2 linked regions of the Homo sapiens genome follow. The protein of the gene in region 1 interacts with the protein of each later gene in a pairwise test. Each region holds a gene or a part of one and is shown in the gene's direction. Other genes may lie near its edges.

What was found. Proteins that work in one complex are often made in the same cells at the same time.
Region 2: the proteins of MYO6 (region 1) and PRMT2 interact in a two-hybrid assay, tested with the Homo sapiens proteins (one large-scale study listed by BioGRID and IntAct).

Annotation. Positions count from the first base shown.
Region 1 is NC_000006.12:75,916,638-75,920,037, forward strand, and holds the end of MYO6 (unconventional myosin-VI), read left to right. Parts: 3' UTR 1-2,900; downstream 2,901-3,400. UniProt on the Homo sapiens protein: Myosins are actin-based motor molecules with ATPase activity. Unconventional myosins serve in intracellular movements. Myosin 6 is a reverse-direction motor protein that moves towards the minus-end of actin filaments.
Region 2 is NC_000021.9:46,651,489-46,657,012, forward strand, and holds part of PRMT2 (protein arginine N-methyltransferase 2), read left to right. Parts: intron 1-317; coding exon of another isoform or gene 318-518; exon of another isoform or gene 519-1,356; coding exon of another isoform or gene 1,357-1,566; exon of another isoform or gene 1,567-3,609; intron 3,610-5,524. UniProt on the Homo sapiens protein: Arginine methyltransferase that methylates the guanidino nitrogens of arginyl residues in proteins such as STAT3, FBL, histone H4. Acts as a coactivator (with NCOA2) of the androgen receptor (AR)-mediated transactivation.

The DNA of each region.
Region 1 (3,400 bases):
TATTTGTGTAGGATAGTGAATGATAAGCTTTTTTCCTAACCAGTAGTGAGTAAAGTTCTTGAACAAAATTTAGTAGCCAAATTGTTTTTTAATGACATGTCTCTTTAGTACAATAGTTTTGTGTATCTTTTAGATACATTAATAGGCACTAGATGGAAAATTAAAGAGTTAAACATATTTAAATGAGAGAATCTAATGTTTCAGAAATTTGTAAGAAATGTATCACAGCAAAGGGTTGTTATAAGTCCTTAGTTTTTGACTCTAATAGTTAATACAATTATAGTTAATCTTAAGCCATAATGTTTCTAATCATGTCACACAGCTGTCCTAGAACTTATCTATTTAAAATAGTTTCCTGAGTTAATTTTGGCCAGCAGGGCAACTGCCCTAATTCAGATAGATTTACAGTAACCTACGTACAGTAGATGCACATACACACAGACACCCCTTTGCTGGAGAAACTTAGGACCCTGTCAGCCTTTTAAAGGAAACAGCAGGAGTGGTGTCCTAAATGATGTTCATGCAGCTGCTTTACCATGTTCACAGTCAAGCCCATGCATGCCAGGTTAAAACTGTGGAAATCAAAAGTAAATTCACTCATATTTTAATCATTTTAACTGAGATTTAAAATTAGAAGTTTAAACCACTATATATAAAGAACTAATCTTTTCTTAATACCAGTTCTTTCCATAGCATATGCTTTGCAAAGGCAGCATGCATAAAATATTTAAAATGAGAGGACAGAATGTTTTCACATTTGATTCAATTTTAATATAATTCCTAATTGTGGTAACACAGTTGAGATATGTATTATGAGTTATGGGAACTAATTGAGAAAAGGAAGTTACTCTAATCCACGTATGTTAAGAGAATATTGAGTTTTCTTAGTTGTAAAGTTGGGGAGATGGCACCTTCTCAGAGGATTGTGAAAATATGAGGAAGAAACAAAACAGTGCATGTAGGAGCACAGGGCCACACAAAGGCATTCTATTGTTATGCTCATTCTGCTTCTGTAATGACTTTTCATAGGTCATTCTTGTGAACCATTTTGTTTTGCAAGCAACCAAGGAAAGAACATCTTAAGTGGAAAATCAGTGGTGGTTGTGAACACTTAGAGAATAGCAATCCACAGGCAAGAATAATGGTATTGTTTGTAGAGCTTTATTAATTGGATATTTTTTAAAAGACATTTTCATTCACAGGTCATTACTATGGTTCTCAGCGATCCAAATATGTAGATCATTGGTTTTTTTTTTTACCTGAAGTAGCTTAAGAGTACTTGGATCAGTAGAATAAATATTTATTGAATCAATCAGTCAGCCAATTAATATGATGTTAGTGATAGACCTGCCTCCTTTTATGGAAGAGGTAACAGATCCAGAGAGGTCAAGTAATTTAGTTGTAGACTGAAAAATATATCAAAGCCTTTGCTGCAATCATATGTAACAAAAAGAACCAAAACAAACACTTTTTAGTGGCACCTGTGGATTTACAAAGGGTTGCCTCTCTGTCATTCCACAACTTCAGAAGGTGTGACAGGTTTTCCCTATTTATCATTACCAATAATAACAAGTATTGAGAGTTTTAAAATTTCTCCCAGAAGATAAACTAACAAGGATGGAAGGGGAGGGCAAAGGATATCTAAACATGAGAATAAGGACATGTTAGAGGGGGGGAAACAGTTGTAACAATAAGGAAAGAGAAGAGCAACAGTGGAAGAGACAGGTTGTGTGCCCCTAAAGATTCTGCACCCCCAGTTTGGAAACACTGATACATTTTAGGACACAGAGCACTCCTAGATCTCTACGAAATTTTAGAATGAATAATGTGTAATTTATAGGATCAGAACGTATGGTTATTAAAACTTGGATCAAGATATGCCCGGTGTATACATTCTTAGCACATAGGAATGGCACTGCCATACTGGAGAAGGTCAGCAGTAAATAGGCATTCTGTACATAAGCCTCATGGAAGGGTAAGATGGAGAGACTGGCAGAAGTAGCACCTACTCTGCTGGGAGCACTTCTCTGAGTACGCTTTAGTTCAATTCAAATCACTGTATTCTTTCCCCATTGCTAACCTAATATATGAAACAAGCTTAGCTGTCTCAGAAGTTTTTCAAGAGATGATCAGGAAAAATTAATGCACATTCAAAAGGAGAATCTTCAGTACAAATTTGTTTTTTTAAAAATAGATTTAGGGCTGGGCGCGGTGGCTCACGCCTGTAATCCCAGCACTTTGGGAGGCCGAGGCGGGTGGATCACGAGGTCAAGACTTCGAGACCAGCCTGGCCAACATGGTGAAACCCTGTCTCTACTAAAAATACAAAACATTAGCCAGGCGTGGTAGTGGGTGCCTGTAATCCCTGCTACTTGGGAGGCTGAGGCAGGAGAATCACTTGAACGCGGGAGGCAGAGGTTGCAGGGAGCCGAGATGGCGCCATTGCACTCCATCCTGGGCAACAAGAGCGAAATTCCATCTCAAAAAATAAAATAGATTTAGGGGGTACAAGTGCAGTTTTGTTACATGGGTATATTGCATAGTGGTAAAATGTGGGCTTTTAGTGTACCTAACACCCAGAGAAGCATACATTGTGCCCAGTAGGTAATTTTTCATCCCTAAACCTTTTCTCAGCCTCCCACTTTCTGGAGTCTCCAATGTCGGTTATTCCACTCTTTATGTCCATATCTACACATTCAATCCTAATTTGTACCAAGTAGCATCTCACCTTTAAATCACAGGCTTATTAGTTGGGTGTTTTCTTTTTACTTATGAAAATTCATCTAGTCAAACTGTCAATTAATTTTTCCTCATTTCATTAAAAGTGTATATCTAATGCTTTCTCTAAAAATTGATGTACTGGAAATACAAATAAATAAATGCTCCCTGTGTAGAATTTCCACTTGCATCTTGTGCTTTTAATACCATTACAGGGTGTCATGAACAGGTTGTAAATGTTGCACTTATTGCCGTGTTTCAGATGGAATAAGTTGGCGAATTCTGGGCTCCTGAAGCTTGATCCAGTCGCTAGGGCTGGAAGCACTGTGTTAGGTGGCTGCAGGAAGAAGCAAGGAACTCAAGGTGATTGAAACTTCTTTGGACATAGGCCCCAAATTTCCTATGTGATCTCCATCCAGGAAACAGGCAGGATTCTGTGTGAGTGACAGCTACTCATTTTGTAGAGATTAGAGACACACCAAATTTTGGCTGCCTTTCTCCAGACCGTTACTAATCTGTGAGAAGACACAGGATGTAAAAACTGGGGACCAAAAGAAGGCTCCTTCTCCCTAAGGCCTTGAATATAGCTGGTCCATTCCCTGTGTCAAGAACCTACCATGATCCTGCTGGGTCCTCTGAGAGTGGAAGGAGACTCTGTCCATCTCACCTCATCAGCTCTTCC
Region 2 (5,524 bases), on another chromosome or scaffold:
GACATTTGGAGGAGTGCTGGGGTGAGTCAGACAGGACCATGTGGTGGTTTTCTCCAGTGCAGGCAGTGGAGGGGGAAGGCGGAGCTTTGCAGGTGAGGGCTTGAGGCAGTTCCGACTTCAGACTCCCCCCCAGGGAGACTGAGGGACCACCACCATCATTACTCAGGCCAAGGAGGCCCAGAACAGGGCAGACGGGGCTGCAAGAGTTCCTATGGCGATAGTTGTTGGGGCACAGGGTTGGTCGGATTTGAGGGAGGGAGGGTATGAATCTGGGAGTCGTTGGTGCGGTTGTACCCACCTTCACTTTCCGTCCCCAGGCTGCGCCTCTCCTGAGCTGCCGCATTCTCCCCTGCACCTGTGCGTCTGGCCCTCTTCACGTCCTCCTGGCCTGCTGTCTGCCTCTCCCCTGCACCTGTGCGTCTGTCCCTCTTCATGTCCTCCTTGCCTGCTGTCTGCCTGTTCTCAGAGCCCCTCAGCCCTCAGGCCTTCATCTCTCCTGGCCCATCTTCCTACTCTGACGCTGACATGTAGTAAAAGTCTGAAGACAGAGAAGAGTGCATGTGCGTTTAGCATAGGAGGGGCAGCTTTCAGTCAGTGCAGCAAGGGCATGTAGTTGTTCAGAGATGGTGCTGGAACGACTGATTTGGAGAAAAGAGGCCCTTCTTCACACCATCTGCTAAAATAAACCTCAGATGGGCTCAAGAGTTAAATATTTAAGAAAAGGAGGAAACAAAAAAATTGCTACAAGTTTATTTGTTGTTAGGATGGGAAAGGTTTTTCTAAGAACCAAGTTCATAATGAAGCTGTCAAATAAAATACTTGACAAAAAATTCCCCTTCATACATTAGCACAGCTAAAAACTATTAAATGGTAAATGCAACTAAAGAATTGCAGCTAAAGAATTGTGTGACGTAAAGAGTTGCAATAAGAAAAGCATAAGATAAAGGTAACCTCATGGAAGGTGAGCAGGGACTAGAAAGGCAGAGAAATGCCAGAGGCCAGGAGCTTGAACGTTGTTCAATGCCACCAACAATTTGAAAGTAACTGTAATAGTTTTGACCTGGGAAGTTGGCTGAGCAATCCTCTAATATCTGATGCTCCCGATGCTGAGGTTGTGGGGAAGTGTGCACCGCCATGCCCTTTTTTTGGCAGTGTAAATTGGTAAAGCCTTTTGAAGGAAAATAGGGCAGAATAAGTCAAAGAGCATTAAAATTTTTTTGTTTTTCCAGAAGCAGCAAAGTTCTGAAGGAGACGCAAGTAAAGATACCACAGGTGTCCTAGATTGTCAACAGACCATTTAATCATTTTTGTTAACAAAGCAGGTGACAATTGAGCCCTAATTTGCGTTATCATTAGTTGTTACAGGATCTTGCTTGTTCTCCTGAGGCCACGCCACGATTTCCGAGAAGCAGGTTGCACACTCAGCAGTCTCCCACTAGCCAGTGGCACTGCAGGTGCAGGGGCTGCCTCCTGGACCTTTCAGGACGCTTTGCAAGGTCACTGAGGATCTCCATTGCACATTTGGTAGAATTAAAAGACTGCCAGACTCAGTCTTACTGTTGTTAGTGTATTCGTGCTGTCAATATGTGATGAGGACATATTATATTCCGTTATTCTCTTTAGCTCAAGGAAGAATAAAGAATTTGGACCAAAATTACAACCACATTATGACGAATTTTCTAAGCAAAAGAAACAAAGTAACTGCTGAGGTTAACAAAGATGTAATAATTCTCTTCACACAGCCTTGTACTGTTTTATTGACTGTATTATCACAAATCCTGAGCTTAACGAAAGTCTTTATAAGTCAGCTCATGAAAACAGGCACGTGGCCAGTAAGAATTTAATTTCATACCAATAACACTTCAGACTTCGGATGTATTTAAGGCTGTTTGCACATATTTATAGAATGTGTGGTGTAGATGATGGGACAGCTCCCCCTCAGCAAGACTCTGGCCTAAATGTATTTGCTTTATTTACACAACAAGAGGATAAGCGTAAACACGGGCACTTTCAGTTTGTGGCACTGAAGGACGATCTACACAGGGCACCCTGCAGAGGCCACAACCAAGGCCGCCTGGCTTCCCAGTGGGACAGGCCTAAGGGAGGACTTCTGGCCCCTTTGCTTGATGTTCATGTTTTATGCCTTGATATTTCTTTTTGGTTGCATTCCCTGGAGCTCATGTAGATCATTTTACTTTTCAGAGGTGCTAGTTCTGGTGCCCACACGCACACACACAAAACCATCAACTCTTCTGGATTCCTTGGTTTTAAAGCTTGCCTCATACAAAGTACAGAGACATCTTTTTCAGGAAACATTGCCACCACATGCTTGAAGGACCGCTTATGGCTACACTTAGACATCTCCAACCAAGGTCTCTTCACCTCCTTCTACAACAATGCACTTTGTCTGCACTGGGACAAAAAATGACAGCCTTTTTTCTTTTCTTGTTTTTTTTTTTTTTTGGCGTGGAGCATTTCCGAACTTTCACGTCATAAAAAATGCAGCATAGTTAATCAGCAGCTTGCACTTCTGAGGGCACATTCACCTCGGGGGAGGAGGAAGGAGGAGGAGCTGGTGGGTGCTGAGACTGCAGTGTCCTCCTTCCCAGCAGCTGGACCCAGAGACCAGGCACCAAATTTTTTTGATGAAATTATCCTAAGGAAATAATCAAATTTGTACAGAAATTTATGTTAAAAAATGTTCATGGCAGCACCGTTTAAAATGGGGAGAAAATTGGAAACAACAGAATTGTAGCAATACATATGATCATTAAAAATTATGTTTTAGAAAGATTTTTAACAGTCTTTGGAAAAAGTTGGTGACATGTTGCTAGTTTTTAAAAAAAGTACAGAGTATGTACAGTATGATTCCAATTTTGTGTTTAAAAATTAGACATAGTGGTAACCTAGCTTCAGTTCCAGATAAGATGGAGAAGGCATACTCCTTTCATGTCTCCCACTGAATGCAGCTATAAATCCTGGAGAGTAGACAGGGAGAAACTATTTGAGGACTCTGGAACAAAGACATAGTAGCAATCGACTGGTGAAGAAGACAAGAATTTGAAGTACGGTCAAGTATCTGTGGGCTCCACATCTGTAGATACAACCTACATGTATTGAAAATATCAGAAAATAAAAATAACAATACAACAATAAACATCAATACAAATAACACACCAATACAGTATAGCAGCTACTTACATAACACTGACATTGTATTAGGTAGAAGTAATCTAGAGATGATTTAAAGTCTGTCGGAGGATGTGTGTAGCCTGTATGTAAAAACCACGTTATTTTATATGGGGGACTTTAGCATCCAAGGATTTGAATATCCACGGGGGTCCTGGAACAAGTTCCCCATAGACACCAAGAAACAACTGTATTCCTGAAACAGTCTTGAGTTATCATTTTCTTTCTTCTCCCTCTATGTATGTACATAGAGTGTACATACATAGAGTGAGAAGCAAAGAAGGTCCATGAAATGGACCAATTCTTTTGAAAACTGCAAATTACCACAGTTCATCTAACATGAAATAGATAACCTGAATGGTCCAATAACTAGTAAAGATATTGAATTAATAGTTTAAAAACCTTCTGAAAGGTAAATCTCTACCCTAAATGATTTCACTGGTGAATTCTATCAACACATTTAATGAAGAAAAAACTCCAGTTCTAAACAACTTTCAGAAAAGAAGAGGGAACACTTCCTCACTCATTATATGAGGTAAGCATTGCCCTAATACCAAAACCAATGTTAACACAAAATATGAAACCTACAGACCAATAACCCTCATGAACATAAATGTAAAAATCCTCAAGAAAACATTAGCAAATTTAAACCAGCAGGATATAAAAGGAATAATAATACACCATAACAAAAAAAGAAACTATCCTTGGAATGCAAGGCTGGTTCAATATTTGAAAATCAATCAGTGTAATCTACCATATTAACAGTCTGAAGAAGAAAAATCATGATTATATCAATACAGAAAAAAATTGACAAAATTCAACATCAGTTCATGATAAAATTCTCAGCAAACTAGAAAGGGAAGGAAATTTAACATGACATAGGACATCTACAAAAAAACCTACAGAAAATCCTAAGGAGTCTATGAGAAAATTTCCTAAAACTAGTAAGTGAGTTTAACAAGATCACAGAGTGCAAGGTCATCATACAGAAGTCATTTTTATATCTTAGCAATGTACAATTAGAAATTAAAGAATATCACAGTAGCTTCAAAAATATGAAAGGCTTAGAAATCTAACAAAATGTGATCTGGATGCTGAAAATGATGAGATGATAATGAAAGAAACCCCAGAAAACCTAAATAAATGGAGAGATAAGAAGGCTCAACCTAGTAAAGACGTATGTTCTTTTTAAATTGATCTGTAGACTTAATAAAATTCCAATTAGAATCCAAGCAGGATTTGTTCTTATAGATAAGCTCATTATGAAATGTATATGGAATGTAAAGGAACTAGTGCTATGGTTTGTCCCCACCAAATCTCATGTTGAAATTTGATCCTCAGTGTGGTGGTGTTGGGAGGTGGGGCCTAGTGGGAGGTGTTTGGGTCATGGGTGTGGATCCCTCATGAATAGATGAATGCCCTTCCTCGTGGGTAGATAAGTGAGTTCTAGCTCTTTCAGGTCCCAACAAGAGCTGGTTGTGAAAAAGAGCCTGGCACGCCCACTTGCCTCTGCTCCCACCCTGTGGTCTCTGCACGTGCCAGCTCCCCTTTGCTTTCCACCGTGAGGGGAAATAGCCTGAAGCCCTCACTGGATGCCCAATCCTGAACTTTCCCAACCAGCAGAACCATGAGCCAAATAAACCTCATTTCTTTATAAATTACCCAGCCTCAGATATTCCTTTTTGGCAACACAAAAATGGACTAAGAGAACTAGAGTAGCTGATAGAATTTTTTAAAAGAAGGGTAAAGTTGGAGGAACTATACTACTTGATTTTGAAGCTACAGTAATCAGGACAATGTGGTGAAGGGACAGACACGTAAGTCAATGGAATGGAGACGAGAGATTTCTACAAATATGGTCAATGGGTTTTTTTTAACAAAGGTACAAAAATCAATTTAATGGAGAAAAGACAGTCTTTTCAGCAAATGTTACTGGAATAGTTGTCATCCATATCTAAAAAACAACACCTCAACCTCACATCTCATACACAGCTGAACTTAAAATTGATCATAGATCTAAGTGTGTGAAATGTAAAACTATAAACCTCCTTGAAAAAATCATAGAAAATCTTCATCACCTGGACTTGGGCAAAGACTTTTTACTCTAAAAGCGTGATCCATAGCAGAAAATGTTGATAAATTGAATTTCATCAAAACTAAAAATGACTGCTCTGCAAAAGGATGATGCTAAGAGAATAAAAAAGACAAGCTAAGATTAGGAGAAAATATTGCAAAGAACATATCCAGTGTGTGTTCTGAATATACAGAGAAATCTCAAAACTCAACAGGAAGAAAACAAGCCAATTGAAAATGGGCAAAATACTTGAACAGACAC